Homo sapiens: one gene and its partners. The protein of the gene in region 3 purifies or fractionates together with the protein of the main gene of each other region. This does not show direct contact. Each region holds a gene or a part of one and is shown on either strand. Other genes may lie near its edges.

Region 1 (4,670 bases), on a different chromosome or scaffold from region 3:
TTTAAAAACCCTTTAACGGAGGCCAGGTGTGGTAGCTCACACCTGTAATCCCAGCACTTTCGGAGGCTGAGGTGGGCGGATCACCTGAAGTGGGGAGTTCGAGACCAGCCTGACCAACATGGAGAAACCCGTCTCTACTAAAAATACAAAATTAGCCGGGCATGGTGGCACACGCCTGTAATCCCAGCTACTCGGGAGGCTGAGGCAGGAGAATCGCTTGAATACAGGAGGCAGAGGTTGCCGTGAGCCAAGATCAAGCCACTGCACTCCAGCCTGGGCAACAAGAGCAAAACTCCGTCTCAAAAACAAACAAAACACCCTTCAATGGTCCCCCGTCACCTTCTGCAGAATACACATTCCTACTGATTCAGGCCCTGTCTACCTCCCCACACTCATTCCCACTCACGCTCCTCCACCATGTTTGCTGCAATCACAGTATTCCTGAGGTTAGTTCCCTTCTCACATATTCTAAATGCAAGGTGTGAGACAGTCAGACTTCATAACAATTGTTTAAGGACAACATTCTAAGAGCTAAAACACCACTTACCAGCTGTTAAAGAATGAGGTGTTTTTTTCTGTTATATACCTTTGATAATGTCTCTATGAACATCTTGGCTTATATGGCTTCCCACTCCCAGTTATCCTTAATTGATATGGCAATAGCAGGACCGCTACAGTAGCATTTCTGGGTCAAAGAGCATGAATGGATTCTGATACATACTGCCAAAACAGTTACACAATAACATCAACTGTAATTTGGCTACTTAATTGAAGCTCTCTATTGCCTAAGAAATGTATCTCATAGCACCTTCCTTACCCCACACATACACACTAATTGCTGAAAGAAGCCTACTAACCTGGAAACATCTAACACTGTCAGTTTAATGGACAGATTCTTGTTGTCATCACCCTATCAGTAACACCTCGTAAAGACACATACTTCATTTCCAGCACCTCCTATACTAGCAAGGGACCTACATGTCAGGCACTTCATACATTTAATACCAAGAGAAACTCCACTAGGGAGGGACTATCCTCAGTTTACACGAAAAGAAGCTGAGGCTTGGAAAGGTGAGGTGCCAAATTGAAAGTCACACGGCTAGTAAAACATGCATTCGTGTTTCAAATCTGACTCCTTCTAACCTTTCCCTAGTACCAACACCACTTCACTTCTGGCTGTTTCTACTTGCTCATTAAAGATTCTGTTGCTGCTAGGCTGGGCCTGGGGGCTAACACCTGTAATCCCAGCACTTTGGGAGGCCAAGGCGGGCAGATCACGACGTGAGGAGTTCAAGACCAGCCTGGCCAACATGGTAAAACCCCGTCTCTACTAAAAATACAAAAATTAGCTGGGCATGGTGGCACTCGCCTGTAATCCCAGCAACTGGGAGGCTGAAGCAGGAGAACTGCTTGAACCCAGGAGGCGGAGTTTGCAGTGAGCAAAGATTGCACCACTGCACTCCAGCCTGGGCAACACAGCAAGACTCCATCTCAAAAAAAAACAAAAAACAAAAAACCTGTTGCTGCTATTGGAACAAGTGACAAGCAACAGCTTAGTCAGGGTTGAAATCCTACTGTTCAGCAGCATCTCCAAGAAATCCATTTTGTCTACAAATGGAGTGTGACAATACTCCCTTTTGATGCTGTTCACTATGCAGCCCCAGAGCCCCTAACAGTTCCTGGCATAATAAATATCTGTTGAAAGCATAAACCACCTGTGTTAGGACATGAGCCAAAGAGGTTCACCTTCCCATGGAATGGTACCTGTTCCAACTTAACAGAGTCCATTGATAAAATGATTCACTCAATTTTCATTTAAGTGAAGGCTGTGCTTTTTTAAAGAGACACACAGTCTCACTCTGTTACCCAGGCTAGAGTGCAGTGGCAGGATCATAGCTCACTGCAGTCTCAAACTCCTAGCCTCAAGTGATCCTCCCACCTTAGCCTCTCAAAGTGCTGGGATTATAGGACAGAGGCACCATGCCCAGCCCGGCATGTGCTGTTTAATACAATTTTTGTTAACAAGATGACAAGGCAGTTAAGTTAAACCCAACACGGTATTCTGGAAAAAAAAAAAAGTGCTAAATCAAGGATAGAAAAAAAATAATGAATTTACACAATAAAAAAGAAAATAATTTTGACTAAAGAACCAACCAACCCAGAACTCAATGCCTAGAACAAGACAGACACACACTGAACAGCCTGGTTTCAAATCCTACCCCTATCACAGATCACCTGAAGCTCAGGAGTTTCAGACCAGCCTGGGCAACATGGGGAAACCTCGTCTCTACAAAAACAACAAAAAAAACAAAATTAGCCAGGCATGGTGGTGTGAACCTGTAGTCCCAATTCAGGAGGCTGAGGCAGGAGAATCGCTTGAGCACAGGAGGCAGAGGTTGCAGTAAGCTGAAATAACACCACTGCACTCCCGCCTGGGAGACAGAGTGAGACTGTCTCAAAACAAAAAGAAAAAAAAAAAAAATGAGGCTGGACACAGTGGTTGATGCCTCTGGTCCCAGCTACTTGAGTGGCTGAGACAGAAGCAACACTCAAGCCCAGGAGTTGGAGGCCTGGCGGCTGCAGTGAGCTATCACTGCGCCACTGAACTCCAGCCTGGACAACAGAGCAAGACCCTGCCTCAAAAAAAAAAAAAAAAAAAAAAAGGCAACAAACCCTACAATGGCTGGCTATGCTCACCACCACGACCACAGCAGCAACCCAAACCCAGCCCTAGTCAGTGAAGATTTAAAAACCCTTTAACAAAGGCCAGGTGTGGTGGCTCCCACCTGTAATCCCAGTACTTTGGGAGGCCGAGGCGAGCGGATCATCTGAGGTCAGGAGTTCGAGACCAGCCTGACCAACACGGAGAAACCCGTCTCTACTAAGAATACAAAATTAGCCGGGCATGGTGGCGCATGCCTGTAATCTCAGCTACTCAGGAGGCTGAGGCAGGAGAATCTCTTGAACCCAGGAGGCGGAAGTTGCAGTGAGCCGAGATCTCGCCATTGCACTCCAGCCTGGGCAACAAGAGCGAAACTCTGTCTCAAAAAACAAACAAACAAAAAACTAACAAACACACTTCAATGGTCCCCCGTCACCTTCTGCAGAATACACATTCCTACCAATTCAGGCCCTGTCTACTTCCCCATACTCATTCCCACTCATGCTCTTCTGCATAACCTTCCTCTGGACCTCAGTTTCATCATCCACAAACTAGAAGACAGTGGCTACCTGAGAAACTGTTAATGGAGACAAATTTCCTAGTACATAACAGCAGGCCAGGTCTCTTTTCACTTTTGTAACTGCCATGCATATAGACTACATCTATTCCTTGATATGAAACCAACAAATCAAGTTACTTTAAACACTGCACCCTTTATACAGGTTGAGTATCTCTTATCTGAAATGCTTGGGACCAGAAGTGTTTCAGATTTTAGAATATTTGTATAAACATGATCAGGTATCTTGGGGATGGGACCCAAATCTAAACATGAAATTCATTCACGTTTCCCACACATCTTATTCACATAGACTGAAGGTAATTTTATACAATATTTTAAATAATTTTGTGCATGAAACAAAGTTTTAACTGTGATCCATCACGTGAAGTCAGGTGTGAAATTTTCCACTTGTAACATTAATGTCAACACTAACGGAGTTTCAGAATTTGGAGCATTTGGATTTTTGATTTTGGGATCAGGAGTGCTCAACCTGAATAAGGAAAGACAATGTAGAGAGGTGGTATTATAAACAAGCTAGAGTTCAGTCAAGTTTCAGCACCACAAATTATTTTTGTTTATCAATCCCTATCACCCTTAAAACAGAAAGTTATAAGGAACTATCAAATATACAGGTTTGAGGAAAATAAATATCTGTTTGTTTTAAATGTTATGTTCAGTTTAATACTAGTCTTATAAAACCACAGCCCGAAGACTCATCCAGAAGGTTCTCTCACTTTTAAAAGGCAATCAAGGGATCTATACAACCTGGTGACTATAGTTAACAACAATGTATCACATAATTGAAAAATTGCTGAGAGTAGATGTTAAGTGTTCTTGTCAGAATCAGTATACCACCTAATGTGAATTAACTTGACTTAGCCATTCCACAATGTATAGTACTTCAAAACATCGCATTATACATCATAAATATAATTTTGTGTTAATAAATAATAACTAAAAATAAATAAAAGACAATCAAGTTAAATTATGAAAGGGATACCAGGCAAAAGAATGTTGTAAGTTTTCTAAAGTTCAGGTTCCCTCCCAAGGTCAAAAACTTTAACTGTGTCTACAATTCTAAATCTGAACTGGCAAGCAAATTTTCACCCAGTTAATTGGGTCGAGGAAAAATAAAATAAAATAATTCCCATGATTACACAAATGTTCTTTTATTTATATTAGTCACTGTAACAATCCTATTTATGGATTAATTTCTTTGTACCCCAAACAACTGTTTTCTTATGAAATTTTTAAAGATTTTTGTAACAAAATATAACCTTAAATTCCTAATTTTGAACTGAAAACATCTACTCCATAGCTAGAGTAACTATAAAATTGGGCCATGGCCAGGCACGGTGGCTCACGCCTGTAATCCCAGCACTTTGGGAGACCAAGGCGGGCGGATCACATGAGGTCGGGAGTTCGAGGTCAGCCTGGCCAACGTGGTGA
Region 2 (4,670 bases), on a different chromosome or scaffold from region 3:
GCCTCCCAGGGAAGGGGGACTATTCTCACTTGATCCAGATGAGGAAACTGAGGCTTCAAGAAGGGAGGCAAGTTGTCCAGGGGCACTGGGTGGAGACAAAGGCGAGCACTGAACCTCTCTGATCCTTGTGCAGAGCTCGAATTCAGTTGGCCACATTGTGTTCTCCTCACTCTCCCTATCTTTTTTAGAGATGGGGTCTTCCTGTGTTGCCCAGGCTGGAGTGCACTGGCTATTTGCAGTTGCGATCATGGCACACTACAGTCTTAAACTCCTGGGCTCTGGCCATTCTCCCACCTCAGCCTCCTGAGTAGCTGTGCCTACAGGCACATGCCACTGTGCCCAGCTCTCCTGCCTTTTAAGTCCACTTGGACCCCACCCTGAAGCTTCGACTTAGATCCAAGCCCTTGGAAGCAGATCCCCCTGCTGGGCCTGCCAGGCCCTGGTCCTTCCTTGGATCTCGTGGCAAGGCCTGGGGGCTGGGCTTGAGGTCTCTGTGGGAGTCACCTCTCAGTGCAGGTCAGAAAGTCCAGCCAGGTGGGGTGGTTCATGCCTGTAATTCCAGCACTTTGAGAGGCTGAGGTGAGAGGATCGCTTGAGCAGAGGAGTTTGAGACCAGCCTGGGAAACATGTTGAGACCCCATCTCTACAAAAAATTAGCTGGGCATGGTGGTGCATGCCTGTTGTCCCAGCTACTTGGGAGGCTGAGGTGAAAAGATTGCTTGAGCCCAGGAGGTTGAGGCTGCAGTGAGCTGTAATTGCACCACTGCACTTCAGCCTAGGCAACAGAGCAAGACCCCATCTCAAAAAGAAAAGAATGATGGCTGGACGCGGTGTCTCACGCCTGTAATCCCAGCACTTTGGGAGACCAAGGTAGGTGGATCACTTGAGGTCAGGAGTTCAAGGCCAACCTGGCCAACATAGTGAAACCTTGTCTCTACTAAAAAATAAAAAAATTAGCTGGGTGTGATCATGTGTGCCTTAGTCCCAGCTACTCAGGAGGCTGGCACATGAGAATCGCTTGAACCTGGGAGGTGAAGTTGCAGTGAGCCAAGGTTGCGCCACTGCCCTCCAGACTGGGTGACAGAGCGAGACGCTGTCTCAAAAAAAAACAAAAAACAAAAAAAAAAACCAGAATGACTGTGTCCACATTCTGCTTCTAGCTACCCAGACAGAAATAGAACAGAAATGTGCCCTCCACCCCAAAGCTGAGAAGGCCTGCTGGGGAGAAAGGAATGAGGGCAGCTGTCTTGGACTCAGCCGAAGAAGGCCCCAAAGAGAGATGTCCCTTTTACTTGTTCAATACTTGCTGATTCTGCACCCAGCCCCACGTTGGGCAGTGCTGGGGACATGGAAGTGATCTAGGCAGCCCCAGCCTTATTATCACAAGGCTCACAGTCCCATACAGGAGTCCCAATGAGGCCCCAGAATGGGCTGGGATGGGGAAGCCCAGCAGGTGTGAGAACCCAGAGAGGGTGCTTAACCAAGCCTGAGTGCTCTGTGAGTCAGGGAGGGCTTCCTGGAGGAGGTTGGATTTGAGCCTAGGGCTGCGAGAGTCCACAGCCGTAGAGCCTGAGTCTGAATCTCTCATGCGATGTGGCCTTGGGTAAATCACTTTCCTTCTCTCTCAGTTTCCTCACATGTTAAATGAGAATAATAACAGTTCCTGCTTCACAGGGTTGCCGGGAAATTTCCATGAGTCAGCCTAGCTTAGTACCCTGCACTTAGCTCAATCAACATTAACTAATATTATTTTGAAACGGGGCTGCCTGATAAACTGGTGATAGGCAAACATCCCCAAGGACAATTACTAATCTTTCACCAGTTTAAAGTGGAGGACTGCACAACCTTAGAGGTAGCTGGGAGGGTCCCAGGCCAATTCCACCCCTATCTACCTTTTTCAGGTAGGGGAAAGTGAAGCCCAGAGATCTCAGGGACTGGCTTGTGGTCACAGACCATGTGAGCCCAGGGAAGGGCCAAGCCTGGAGCCCAAACTCCACATGCTCTCAGCAAGGAGCGGACTGGAGGAAAAGGTCCTTCAGTGCCAGTCAAGCAGCCATGGGGCCAGAAACCGAGAGCTGCCCCCACCTGTGGGATATCGAGCTCAGCAAAGTGCTCGTAGCAGCCGTCTGAGTTCTCGCCGCTAGTCCAGTCGCCATACACAAGATCGTGCTGTTCCCAGAAGAGTGCCGACGTGGCGTTGAAGTCTGTAAAGTGCTCGTGCTCTGAGATGTACACATGCAGGTTCTGTTGGGACAGGAAGGGAACAGAGCTCAGGCCTGCTCTTCAGAGCCTCTGCAGGCTGGCTAAAGAGCTATGGCAGCGGTCAGCACACTCAGGGGAACAGTAATTATGGAGGACAGGGGAGAGGAGAGAGGAAGAGCAGCAGAGAGGACATATTTTCTCTTTTCTCATACCACCATGTTTGTCCTGGTCTGAGCCTGTGAAGTCAACGAACAAAGAACACTTGGAGACTGGCCAGCCTGCCAATTAGAATTTAGGGGTAGGAAGGGGCAGGAGCTCCCTGAATGATCTCCTGCCCTCATGGCTGCTGGGCCTTCCTGGTCAGAGCTCTGCAGGCTTATGGACGAAGCAGTCCAGAGCTACAAAAGCACTGTGAGCCACCGGGCACGGTGGCTCATGCCTGTGATCCCAGCACGTTGGGAGGCCAAGGCGGGTAGACCACTTGAGGTCAGGAGTTCGAGACCAGCGTACCAAAAAGGTAAAACCCCATCTCTACTAAAAATACAAAAAATTAGCTGGACGTGGTGGCACATGCCTGTAATCCCAGCTAGTCGTGAGGCTGAGGCAGGAGGATCACTGGAGCCCGGGAGGCAGAGGTTGCAGTGAGCTAAGATTATGCCACTGCACTCTAGCCTGGGCGACAGAGTGAGACTCCATCTCAAAAAAAAAAAAAAAAAAAACCCACTGTGACCCAACAAGAACTTCCTCCTTTCTCAAGCCCCAATGGCCATGTTTGCTCAGAAAAGCCTAGACTGACAGATCTAAATGCTTTTGCTCTGGAGGCTCCTGAAGCCCTGCCCTGCCTGTGCCCAAGCCCACTGTGGAAGTGCAGGTCTCCTCTCCTTCCGGGCCCACCTCCTGTCAGCCTCTGCTGGCTCCCTGCCCTCCCCACCTCTCACACTCTCTCCCTTGCACATCTCCCTCTGCAACCCTGAAAGGCTGAACATACTTTTGAAATATAACATCCAAAGACCCTGATTTAACCTATTTTAACCAAATGAATTTGCTTTTTCTTTTGGGTGACACAGGTTTTATGTGCTGGGGATGGACCCAGGTGACAGAGGTCTCACGTGTTGGGGATGGGCCCAGAGTTCCTCAACCCTGGACCTGTTTTCCTAGACCTGCCAGTGAGCAAGGACCTGGTCTGTCCCGACTGCTGACATCACTCCTCCACATTCCACCCCTCCACACCCCATCACCTCCCAAGTCTGCCCTACCACCCGGCAGTTACCATTAAAGTGTCTTTGGGGAACAGGTTGCGGCTGGCGACGCGTGGAGCTCCTCCGGGGCCCGCCTGGTCCTGAGGGGCCGGCCCTCGGCGGAACCAACTGCTGATGGCCCAGATGATGAAGATCCTGAGGAGAGAAGCAGCAAGGTGGTGAGTCCCCAAGCCTTGGCTCTCCGCCATAGACCCGCCTGACTTCCTTCTGACTTAGCACATGCTGGCGCCTGACCTGGGGCTAGTGACCAAGTCAGGGAGGCCCTGAGAAGGTAGTCACAGGGCTGGCAAGGAGATAAGATGTCCCTAAAGACCACATCTGGGGAGGGAGCCCAGATGCCACCGTTTGCCAGTGTGTGGGGGTAGCTGGCACTGCCCTGGTCTGCATGCAGACCCTTGACTCTAAATCCTGCAGGAGCTCCTGGTGACCACAGGGCTGCAGGGGCTGACTCTTGACTCAGACTGGGAAACCTGCCATCCAGCCCCCTGGGATCCCCCGAGAGGAGACTAAGAATCTGGAACCCCTTCAGTGTGCAGATGGATGAATTAAAAGAAAAAAGAAATAAAGAAAAAATAATAAACATAAAATTTTTAAAAGAAAGAATCTGGAATCCTAGCGCTTCAAAAGCACAGAACCGGGGATGGTTAATGGCTACAAAAAATAGAATGAACGAGGACGGGCGCGGCGGCTCATGCCTGTAATCCCAGCACTTTGGGAGGCCAAGGCGGGCGGATCACGAGGTCAGGAGATTGAGACCATCCTGGCTAACATGGTGAAACCCTGTCTCTACTAAAAAATACAAAAAAATTAGCTGGGCATGGTGGCGGGCGCCTGTAGTCCCAGCTACTCCGGAGGCTGAGGCAGGAGAATGGTGTGAACCCAGGAGGCAGAGGTTGCAGTGAGCCAAGATCGCGCCACTGCACTCCAGCCTGGGCAACAGAGCGAGACTCCATCTCAAAAAAAAAAAGAATGAATGAGATCTAGTATTTGGTAGCAAAACACGGCAACTCTAGTCAATAGTAATTTAATTACACATTTTAAAATAACTTAAGAAGTATAGAGGCCAGGCACAGTGGCTCATGCCTGTAACTTTGGGAGGCTGAAGTGGGCAAATCACGAGGTCAAGAAATCGAGATCATCGTGGCCAACATGGTGAAACCCTGTCTCTACTAAAAATACAAAAATTAACTGGGCCTGGTGGTGCGTGCC
Region 3 (4,670 bases):
AGATCTTCTTGTCAACATGCTAAGTCCACTAGGCAGGCCCTTTATGTTCCAGAGCAGCTGCTGGCTCCATGTGTCTCACTACCCAGTCTTGCCTGCCAGATGTCCCTGGAGCAAGCATACCTCAGAATGCAGTCAGTGGGTATTTCTTGTGATCATTTTCCCTTGGTTTGTCAACAGGAGAGTGATTGATCACAGCTGGCTGTGGCAAGATGGTCAGGGCAGCAGGATGCCTATCCAGTGCCAAATGAGATGAATGCCAAGATGAAGCCAGCATCTTTTCACTAACAGGCAAAGAAAGGGGAATCCCTGGACAGCCTCAGGACAGTCACAGTGTCAGGTATGTATGACTTTTAAGGAGATCCCTATTCAGAATTAACTAATGTATACTGAGTGCCTAGTGTTGGGCTAACTGCATTCATATATACTATTCTTTGAGACTAAAAACCACCCTGTGATAGGGTAGTGTAATCATCCTCAATTTATAGGTCATCCCCAACTTGACTCCTGCAGTCACAGAGACACAAAGCAGTCCAGATGTGAACTCCAAGTCTAGCATGTTTTTCATAAAATCAGAATCTCTTTCAGCCATAAGGTTAAAAAAACTAGAGAAGTGATCACCCTCACTCAAGTTAAAGCATGGTCTCCAATCTTGTTTTCTCTCCCATAGTCCATTTTTGGACTTCTAAGAACTATTCTTATAATTAAAGTCCTGTAATGCTGGCTTTGACTACTTACTGTTACTGGGATAGTAGTAAAGCTATTGCAGCAAAGTCTTGATTAACCAGAACCCTTACAGAATTCTCACATGCATCCATTCAGCAAATGCTTACTTAGTACCTACCATGCACTCTGCAGCCTGCTGTGGAGTGGTAAGGTTACAGGAGAATAAGCAGCTCCCACTCTCAAGTAGCTCTCAGCTCAACAGGGCAGACAAGCAGAGATCAATCAAATGCGAGGTACAAAATTCTATGCCTGGGGAAGCTGGGCCAAGGTGAAGGGGAGTCACCAAGTGAAAGCAGGGGATGGGCATTTGATATGGTTTGTCTCTGTGTCCCCATCCAAAACTCATCTCAAATTGTAATCCCCACATGTTTCCAGAGTGGCCTGGTGGTAGGTGACTGAATCATGGGGGTGGATTTCCCCCTTGCTCTTGTCGTGATAGAATTCTCATAAGATCCAGTTGTTTGATAAGTGTGTGACTCTTCCCCTTCACTCTTGCGCTCTCTCCTGGCACCACGTAAGACATTCCTGCTTCCCCTTCTGCCACGATTGTAGGTTTCCTGAGACTTCCCCAGCCATGCAGAACTGTGAGTCAACTAAACCTCTTTCCTTTATAAATTACCCAGTCTCAGGTATTTCTTTATAGCAGTGTGAAAATGGACTAATACAGGAAATTGGTGCCTGGAGTTTGGGGCACTCCCATAAAGATACTTGCAAGTATGGAAGAGACTTTGGAACTGGGTAATGGGCAGAGGTTGGGACAGTCTAGAGGGCTCAGAAGAAGATCAGAAATTGTGGGAAGGTTTGGAACTTCCCAGTGACTTACTGAATGGTTTTGACCAAAATGCTGACAGTGATATGGACAATGAAGTCCAGGCTGAGGTGGTCTCAGATGGAGATGAGGAACTTATTGGGAACTGGGGTAAAGGACACTTATGGTATGCTCTGTCAGAGACTGGTAGCATTTTGCACCTGCCCTAAAGATCTGTGGAACTTTGAACTTCAGAGGATGATTTAGGGTATCTGGTGGAAGAAATTTCTAAGCAGCAAAGCATTCAAGAGTTAACCTGGCTTATTCTGAAAACATTCAGTTATGTGCGTTCACAAAGGGATGGTCTGAAATTGGAACTGATATTGGTAAGGAAAGCAGAGCATAAGGATTTAGAAAACTTGTAGCCTGACCATGTGGTAGAAAAGAAAAACCCATTTTCTGCGGAGGAATTCAAGCCAGCTGCAGAAATATGCATAAGTAATGAGGAGTTGAATGTTAATAGCCAAGACAACAGGGAAAATGTCTCCAGGGCACATCAGAGAATTTTGTGGCAGCCCCTCCAATCACAGGCCCAGAGGCCTAGGGGGGAAAAATGGTTTCCTGGGCCAGGCCCAGGGCCCCACTGCTCTGTGAAGCTGCTGGACTTGGTGCCCTGTGTCCCAGCCGCTCCAGTTCCAGCCATGGCTAAAAGGGAGCAAGGTACAGCTCAGCCCATTGCTTCAGAGTGTGCAAGCACTGAGCCTTGGTGGCTTCTGTGTGGTGTTGGGCCTGTGGGTGCACAGAAGACAAGAGTTAGGCTTTGGGAACCTCCACCTAGATTTCAGAGGAGGTATGGAAACACCTGGATGTCCAGGCAGGAGTCTGCTGCAGGAGTGAAGCTCTCATAGAGAACCTCTGTGAGGGCAGTGCAAGAGGAAATGTGAGGTTGGAACCCCCACACAGAATCCCCAATGGGACACTGCCTAGTTGGACTGTGAGAAGAGGGCCACCGTCCTCCAGACCCCAGAATGGTAGATCCACAGACAGCTTGCACTGTGTGCCTGGAAAAGCCACAGGTACTCAATGCCAGCCCATGGAAGCAGCCACAGGAGTTGAACCCTGTAGAGTCACAAGGGTGGAGCTGCCCAAGGCCATGGAAGCCCAAGCCTTGCATTAGGGTGGCCTGGATGTGAGACATGGAATCAAAGGACATTATTTTGGAGCTTTTTTAATGCATGCCCTGCTGGGTTACAGACTTGCATGGGGCCTGTGGCCCATTTGTTTTGGCCAATTTCTCCCGTTTGCAATGGAAACATTTACCCAATGCCTATACTCCCATTGTATCTTGGAAGTAACAAACTTTTTTTTTATTTTACAGGTTCATTGGCAGGAGCAACTTGCTTGTCTCAGATGAGACTTTGGACTTAGACTTTTGAGTTAATGCTGGAATGAGTTAAGACCTTAGGGTGCTGTTGGGAAGGCATGATTGGTTTTGAAATATGAAAAGGACATGAGATTTGGGAGGAAGCAGGGGCAGAATGATATGTTTTCGCTCTGTGTCCCCACCCAACTCTCGTCTCAAATTATAATACCCACATATTGTGGGAGTCGCCTGGTGGGAGGTGACTGAATCATGTGGGCATATTTTCCCCTTGCTCTTCTCCTGATAGAAGTTTCAGGAGATCTGGTTGTTTGATAAGTGTGTGGCTCTTCCCCTTTGTTCTCTTTTTCCTGCCACCATGTAAGATGTGCCTGGCTTCCTCTTCCCCTTTGCCTTCTTCCATGATTGTAAGTTTCCTGAGACCACCCCTTCCCACCTCCGCCAGCCACGCAGAACTGTGAAACAATTAAACTTCTTTCCTTTATATATTACCCAGTCTCAGGTATTTCTTTATAGCACTGTGAAAACAGACTAATACAGCATTTGAGGCAAAAGAAACAAGGTAAGGGTTTGATTGATTTCCATATTTCCTGTATTCTACCTTTAGGAAGGAGAAAAAAAATAATCTCATCATGGACCTGGTTCATTTTAATTTAAAAAAAAAAAAAAAGCATCCACTAGATTGTAGGCCTATGGTAAGCCCAATTTCCTGGGCCCATTGTGCCATTAGCCACAGCCCAGAACAAGATAATGGATGCTTGAAAACATAAATTTCAATGCAAAATCCTGAATCATCAAGGAAAGGTTCAATTATGTTCACTTGACTGGACTGTCTCCTAAGCTGCAGGGAGAATGTACTATGCATGTACTAAGTAAGTATGCTTCAATATTAGGAGCTCAATGGGAATTCAACACAGGTTTTCCTGTGTAGCTCCCAATTTATCAGAATCCGCAATCCCACCACCACCCCAGTTCATCCTCAATTTTCCTAACACTGTGGCTTCCTGAGTTCTGACCAGCCCCCAACTTGATTCTAAACTCTCATTTCTAGCAATTTGCCATCTGAGAGCTAGCAAGGGGAGGCCAAGGAATTACTCATGGCCCTGCATTAACAATGGGGAAAGGGGCACCCAGTGACGCTCAGCAAAATACCCAGGGTCCCACAATTGTTGGAAGAGCATCAGAACTGGAATCTTGGCTCAGAAACAGAGTGAACCCACTGCATTCAAATGCGAGCTCCAGGAACCTTAGCTGTGTGATCGCGGACAAGTGATTTTCTCTCTTGAGGTTTTCATATCTTTATATAACGGAGATAATAATTTCCATCTAATAGTACTGTGTGAGGATTAAATAAAATTAGTACATTTGCATATTTGCATATATATGCATTTGCATATATAGTTCCTAGCTAGGTAACTGACTTTCTTCTCACAAAGTCTTAAATTTTCCTGGATCCTTTTTGGGAAACAGGCTCCAGGTTTTGGCATTATCAAATCTGCTTCCAGGTGATGCAATAATTCTAGAAAAAAATAAAATTGAGGCTCAGTCAGTAACAGCTTTAGCTATTCCCTTCCCCAGACTGGACAAGGCAGGGCTGGAGGTGCTGGCTGGGAAAGGTGGGAAGAGAAGAAAGAGGGAGCCCACATGCTTCCATAGGACCCCCAGGTTTTTCAGTCAGTACGTACTGAACGCGATGTGCATGTGAAAGGACACGTGAATCATTGTATGACTGTGTGCACTCAACGAACTTCTTGTGCCTTTTTTAACTATCACATATTTCAGTATTCACTTCAATTTAACTAAACATATTGCTAGAGA
Region 4 (5,239 bases), on a different chromosome or scaffold from region 3:
AGGCTGAGGCAGGAGAATCACTTGAACCCAGGAGGCGGAGGTTGCAGTGAGCTGAGATCGCACCATTGCACTCCAGCCTCGGCGATGGAACGAGAATCCATCTCAAAAAAAAAAAAAAAAGAGAGAAGTGGAATAGTTTCGATTAAGAGCTCAACTGCCTGGGTTCAAATCTAGCTCTGCTGCTTAACAGCTATGTGATCTTGGGCAATTCATCTTTTTGTGCCTCAGTTGCCCCATCTATCAAATTGGATGGAGATAACAGATCCATCTCATAGAATTTTTGGGTTAAATGGGTTAATATATATAAAGCACTTCAAACCATGCTTGGCACACGGAAAGTGCTCAGTAATGTATGCTGTGTATGACCTGAGGGAAGAACGTTCCATGCAAAGGGAACAGCAAACGCAAAGGACTTGAAACCAGAGCACGTTCACTGTGTAGGAGGCACAGCAAGGAGTTCACTAGAGTGGACTCCAGGGCTCCAGGAATGGTCAGAAAGGCCAGCAGGAGCCAGATGGTGCAGGTCTGCTTCTGAGAGCAGTGGGTGGGCCCTGGAGTGTTGGCAACAGGGGAGGGTGACATGATCTGATGCATGTTCTAGAAAGTTGTCACAGGAGAACAGACTTGGCAGGGTGGACAGGGCACAGGGCTGGAAGGCAGAGGGGAGGCCTCTGCAGGTATTCAGCAGAAGATGCTGGTCTGGATGATGGTGTGGTGGGGACAGGGAGAGGTAGACAGGTTTGGGACACATTTACGGGGCAGGCCCAAGGGGTCTGGCAGAAGGGGTGAATCCAAGGGCAAGAGAAAAGGGAGAATCTAAGTTGACTTCCTGTTAGGGGCCCACACAGCCAGGTGGAGAGTAGGTCATCCTCTAAACAGGGAAAGTCTGGGGCAGGACGGGTGCAGGGTAGAGCACTCTGGGGAGACCCCATTAAGTGTGAGCGGCGTGGAAGGCCTCCTGCTGCTGGTCCACGGGTTCTCTCTCATGATTCCACAAATGATTATTCAGCAGTAAGGTGCAGCAGTCACAAGCCTGAGCTCTGGAACCTGGCACACCTGACTTTGGATCTCAGCTCCTCTCCACAGCAGCTGGGGCACACAGCCCTCTGAACACCATTCCTCACCTGTAAACTGGGAATAAAACATCCTAGAGGGCTGCTGATGAAGAGTCAGTGAGCTGATGCCTACCGGGCATTAGTGGAGCACTAAGGAGGGCAGCCGTGCCAGGCAGGCCTTGTGCCGGGTACTGGAGGCACGATGGTGGATGGCCAGAATGATGGCTCCCAAAGATGTCCACGCCCGAATGCTTCTGAATGTGTTACCTTACATGGGAGAAGGGACTTGGCAGACAGAATTAAGGTAAGGATCCTGAGATGCGGAAATTATCCAAGGTTATCTAGATGGGTCGAATGCCATTATCAGGGTCCTTAAAACTGGAAGAGGAAGTAGAGGAAGAGGTCAGAGTGATGCGATGTGAGAAGGCCTTGGCCTGATGTTGCTGGCTTTGAAGACAGAGGAAGAGGCCATAAGCCAAGCAGTGTGGGTGGCGTCTGGAAGCTGGGAAAGGCGAGGAAATGGATTCTCCCCTAGAGCCTACAGAAAGTAGTGCAGCCCTGCTTGGTGTTAGCCCAGTAAGACCCATTTTGGACTTCTGACCATAAATAAACCTGTGTTGTTTTAAGCCATCAACTTTGTGGTAACTTACAGTGGCCCCAGAAAACTAATACAGGTGTATGTAAGCAAAGGCAGAGCTGGTTCTGGCCCTCAGAGCCTACGGTTCTAGCACGGAAGGCAGGTGTCTAGACAGGACGTTAAAAGCCAGTGGGCTGTAATCCCAGCACTTTGGGAGGCCGAGGTGGGCAGATCGCTTGAGGTCTGGAGTTTCAGACCAGCCTGGCCAACAGGGTGAAACCCCATCTCTACTAAAAATACAAAAATTAGCCAGGCGTGGTGGTGGGCGCCTGTAATCCCAGCTACTTGGGAGGCTGAGGCAGGAGAATGGCTTGAACCCGGGAGGCGGAGGTTGCAGTGAGCCAAGATCGTGCCACTGCACTCCAGCCAGGGTGACAGACCCAGACAACGTCTTAAAAAAAAAAAAAAAAAGCCAGTGAGATCAGAGCTATGCAGGTGGGCACACAGGTGGCTGCAGGCCCACAGAAGCTCCTAACCCGGTAGGGATGGTCAGGGAAGATCCTGACACTGAGACAGGAAGACCGAGAAAGAGTGAGAAACGACAAGGCAGAGATAGAAGAGGTTCTCAACGGGAGAAAAAGCCCAGTGGTGGGACAGGGCATGCATGGCAGATCCCTTCCCATCTCAGCCAGGCGCCGTGCTACTATTGTGGCAACAGATAAGATGGGACGAGGTCCTCGCCCTTGTGGAGTGCACGTGAGGTCAGGAAGACAGAAAATAAAATGCAACACAAATAGATGTATAATATAATTTCTGGTGGACATAAGTGGTATCCTGAAAAACATCTCGGGCTAAGGGGAGAGCTAGAGAGGCCAGTGACTCTGACCAAGGGTGATCAAGGAGGCAGAGAGCTGAACCAGGCAGGGGAGCAGGCCCTGTGGTTGTCTGGGGAAGTGGCTCCAGGCAGTGAGGACACTAGTGTAAATACTAGGACTGAAAGTTATCGGGGGTGGCTGTAGAGGTGCTGGGTGGGGCTTAGGGATCTCATGTGCTCACCTTCCAAGGGTCGGGGGAAGGGGACACAACGTTATGTAGGCCTAACCTGACACCTGTTCTTGCGGGGCCCCCAAGTTCCTGCCAGAATCACTCCGGTATTCTTAACACCCTTCCTCAGTGGTGGAGCTGACCCTTGACCTCTCCCACTTCCCATTCAGACAAGGGCCTCCCAGCAGATATGACACACCTAGTCCCACTGTCACTGACTGTCACAGCCATGAGAGCCCACGGCTTATCTCCGGGTAGTGCGGTGGCCATGTGCTGGGCAGTGGGGCCCAGGCTGCCTGGGTGTGAATTCCAGCCGTGTCACTTTTTAAGCGCCTGATCTTAGTCAAGCCGCTGAAATCTTCCCTGCCTCAGTTCTCGTCTGCAAAAGAGCCACTATCTACCTCCTAGGGTTGGCATAGGAAACTGAGGGACTTCCTGCAGTTCCTGGACCACTGCAAGCACTAGCGTTATAAGCGTTATCATCACTACTTTAATTATCTCGCCCAATTCCCTCCTTGCTCAAGTGAGGAAACAGAGGCCCAGAGAGGCCCAGCTACTTGCTCAAGGTCACACAGCAGAGGCTGAGCTCCGGCTGGGCCCGGAACCAGTCCGTCTCGCGTCCATCGCAGCGACCTCCCTCCTCCGGCAACCTCCCTCCTCCGAAGCCCTCCCTCCGGTTGGCTGGACTCCCCGAGGCCTCACCCGGATCGTGTCCACGAGGCTCTGCACCTTGGCGGGGTCCAACACGGACGGCAGCGGCCGGATGAGCACGCTCAGCGGCACGTTGTGCACCGCGGCGATGCGGCCCGAGTGGATGCTGCCGCCCTGCGCGCCGCCGCTCGGCCCGGGCCCCTCGGGCGCCCCCCGACCCGCGCCGGCCCTGCCCAGCGTTCCTCCTGCACGCAGCCCCATCGTCGCCGCCGCCGCGGGACTCGCCGCCTCCCCCCGGCCTTAACTCCGGCCGGGCCATACCATTCCGCGCGGCCGGGGGGGGGGGCCCGTGCCAGGGCAGCGCGCGTTTCTCCCCCGACCCCGCCGCGGTCCGGCCTCGACCCCGCGGTCCCCAGCCCGACTCCGGCTCCGCTCGCCAGGTGCCGCCAGACTCGCGCGGGGCTCAGGCTCTCCACCGGGGGGCGCCTCTCGCCTCCCCTGCGCCGCGCGGCGTCCGGGGAGTGGAAACGCCCGGGCGGGCTGACTCAGGGTGAGTTTGCAGGTCGCGGGGCGGGAGGGGCGCGGGTGACGCACCGGCCGGGCCGACTTAGGCCGCGGGGGCGGGGGCGGGGGAGAGCGCGGCGGACCTGCCCAGCCAGGGTGAGTCGGCAAAGCCCGCGGTGCGCTGCTGCCCCGCTGCTGGGGTTCCTAGCCAGCGAGGTTATGATCCCCACCAGCGGTTCCACTTCCAGTCTGGCGCCGGCTGTGTCTGGAGTCGTTCCGAACATTTTGCACGTGTATTAACGTATCTGAACCTCAAAACAACCCTGCAAGGAAGGTATGACTGTTATTCCCATTTTACAGAAGAGGAGACTGAGACACAGGTTTAAGTGATGTACCCAAGATCACGGAACTAGTAAGTGGCCGAATCCGCGTTCAAATCCAGACGGTCTGGCTCCAGAGTCCGCCTTCTACCCCACCGTTGGCTGCCTTGGTTCAGCAACAGTGACTGTCACACGGAGCCCTCAGGAGTCGCGCTGACAATGGGTGGGCCCTGCCTTCAAGTTCCACACTGTCTGTTTGTGTCATTACAACACTACTGGAAGTAGGTGCAGTTATAGACCCGCTGTTCAAGGTCAGCTGAAATGAAAGTCAGGTCACACGAGTCCAAACTGTGGGGCCACTTAACCACCAACTCCAAGCAGGAAGGTGGACGATCCCAGACTCGGTCGAAGACAAGCATGTCTGGTTTGCTTGTCTTCCTTCTCAACCTGAATGGCACGAACATGGAGAAATGCATACTTACCCTGCCAGCTGGAGAAAACTGGAGACGAAGGAGGGAGCCAGGAGTTTCTACTTTGCCTTCCACCAGTTGCTGACACTTTCTGAACCCCGTCTGTAAAATGAAGTCATGCTGCCCATCACTCAAAGTTGTGTGAATTGAGAGAGTGCTCATAGTGCTCTGTGAATTGCATAACATCCATTTTGCTGTTGAAGATCATTTATTTTGGGTTCTTAGTCTCTCACAAAACCTTAGAACACTGACACCAAGACTCCAGCCTTTCCCTTTCGAAACATAATTCCCGTGCGCACCTAAATGATACTTTATTTCAAGAAGTAGAACTGACACCCACACCTCAGCCCCAGAATTATTCAGAATTAGAGAATTTCATCAAGAGGGAAGTTATCCCTTCTAAAACATCTTCCTCATTACAGGAAGTAAGAATGGCAGGATAACAGTTTCTAGAGTGGAAAAGTGGAGCTCTGGCCTGATTCTATCATCATGGTGTACCCAGGGAGGCCTCATTTCCTGGTATCAAATTCTCTGTGTTAAGATATCTATGGCCCAATTCAAAATGGCTTAAGCAATAAGAAGGTTTGTTTTCTCACATAATAAAATGTTTGGAGGTAG

Evidence for each region. The genes of interacting proteins can lie anywhere in the genome.
Region 1: the proteins of KCNQ3 (region 3) and NAP1L4 purify together in Homo sapiens (affinity purification with mass spectrometry, with the first as the bait; one large-scale study listed by BioGRID). This does not show direct contact.
Region 2: the proteins of KCNQ3 (region 3) and CLPTM1 purify together in Homo sapiens (affinity purification with mass spectrometry, with the first as the bait; one large-scale study listed by BioGRID). This does not show direct contact.
Region 4: the proteins of KCNQ3 (region 3) and SRXN1 purify together in Homo sapiens (affinity purification with mass spectrometry; one large-scale study listed by BioGRID and IntAct). This does not show direct contact.

Annotation. Positions count from the first base shown.
Region 1 is NC_000011.10:2,981,527-2,986,196, forward strand, and holds part of NAP1L4 (nucleosome assembly protein 1-like 4), read right to left. Parts: intron 1-4,670. UniProt on the Homo sapiens protein: Acts as a histone chaperone in nucleosome assembly.
Region 2 is NC_000019.10:44,972,013-44,976,682, reverse strand, and holds part of CLPTM1 (putative lipid scramblase CLPTM1), read right to left. Parts: intron 3,597-4,670; coding exon 3,473-3,596; intron 2,245-3,472; coding exon 2,086-2,244; intron 1-2,085. UniProt on the Homo sapiens protein: Involved in GABAergic but not glutamatergic transmission. Binds and traps GABAA receptors in the endoplasmic reticulum (ER).
Region 3 is NC_000008.11:132,473,844-132,478,513, forward strand, and holds part of KCNQ3 (potassium voltage-gated channel subfamily KQT member 3), read right to left. Parts: intron 1-4,670. UniProt on the Homo sapiens protein: Pore-forming subunit of the voltage-gated potassium (Kv) M-channel which is responsible for the M-current, a key controller of neuronal excitability. M-channel is composed of pore-forming subunits KCNQ2 and KCNQ3 assembled as heterotetramers.
Region 4 is NC_000020.11:649,598-654,836, forward strand, and holds the start of SRXN1 (sulfiredoxin-1), read right to left. Parts: upstream 3,604-5,239; 5' UTR 3,589-3,603; coding exon 3,379-3,588; exon of another isoform or gene 3,356-3,378; intron 1-3,355. UniProt on the Homo sapiens protein: Contributes to oxidative stress resistance by reducing cysteine-sulfinic acid formed under exposure to oxidants in the peroxiredoxins PRDX1, PRDX2, PRDX3 and PRDX4. Does not act on PRDX5 or PRDX6.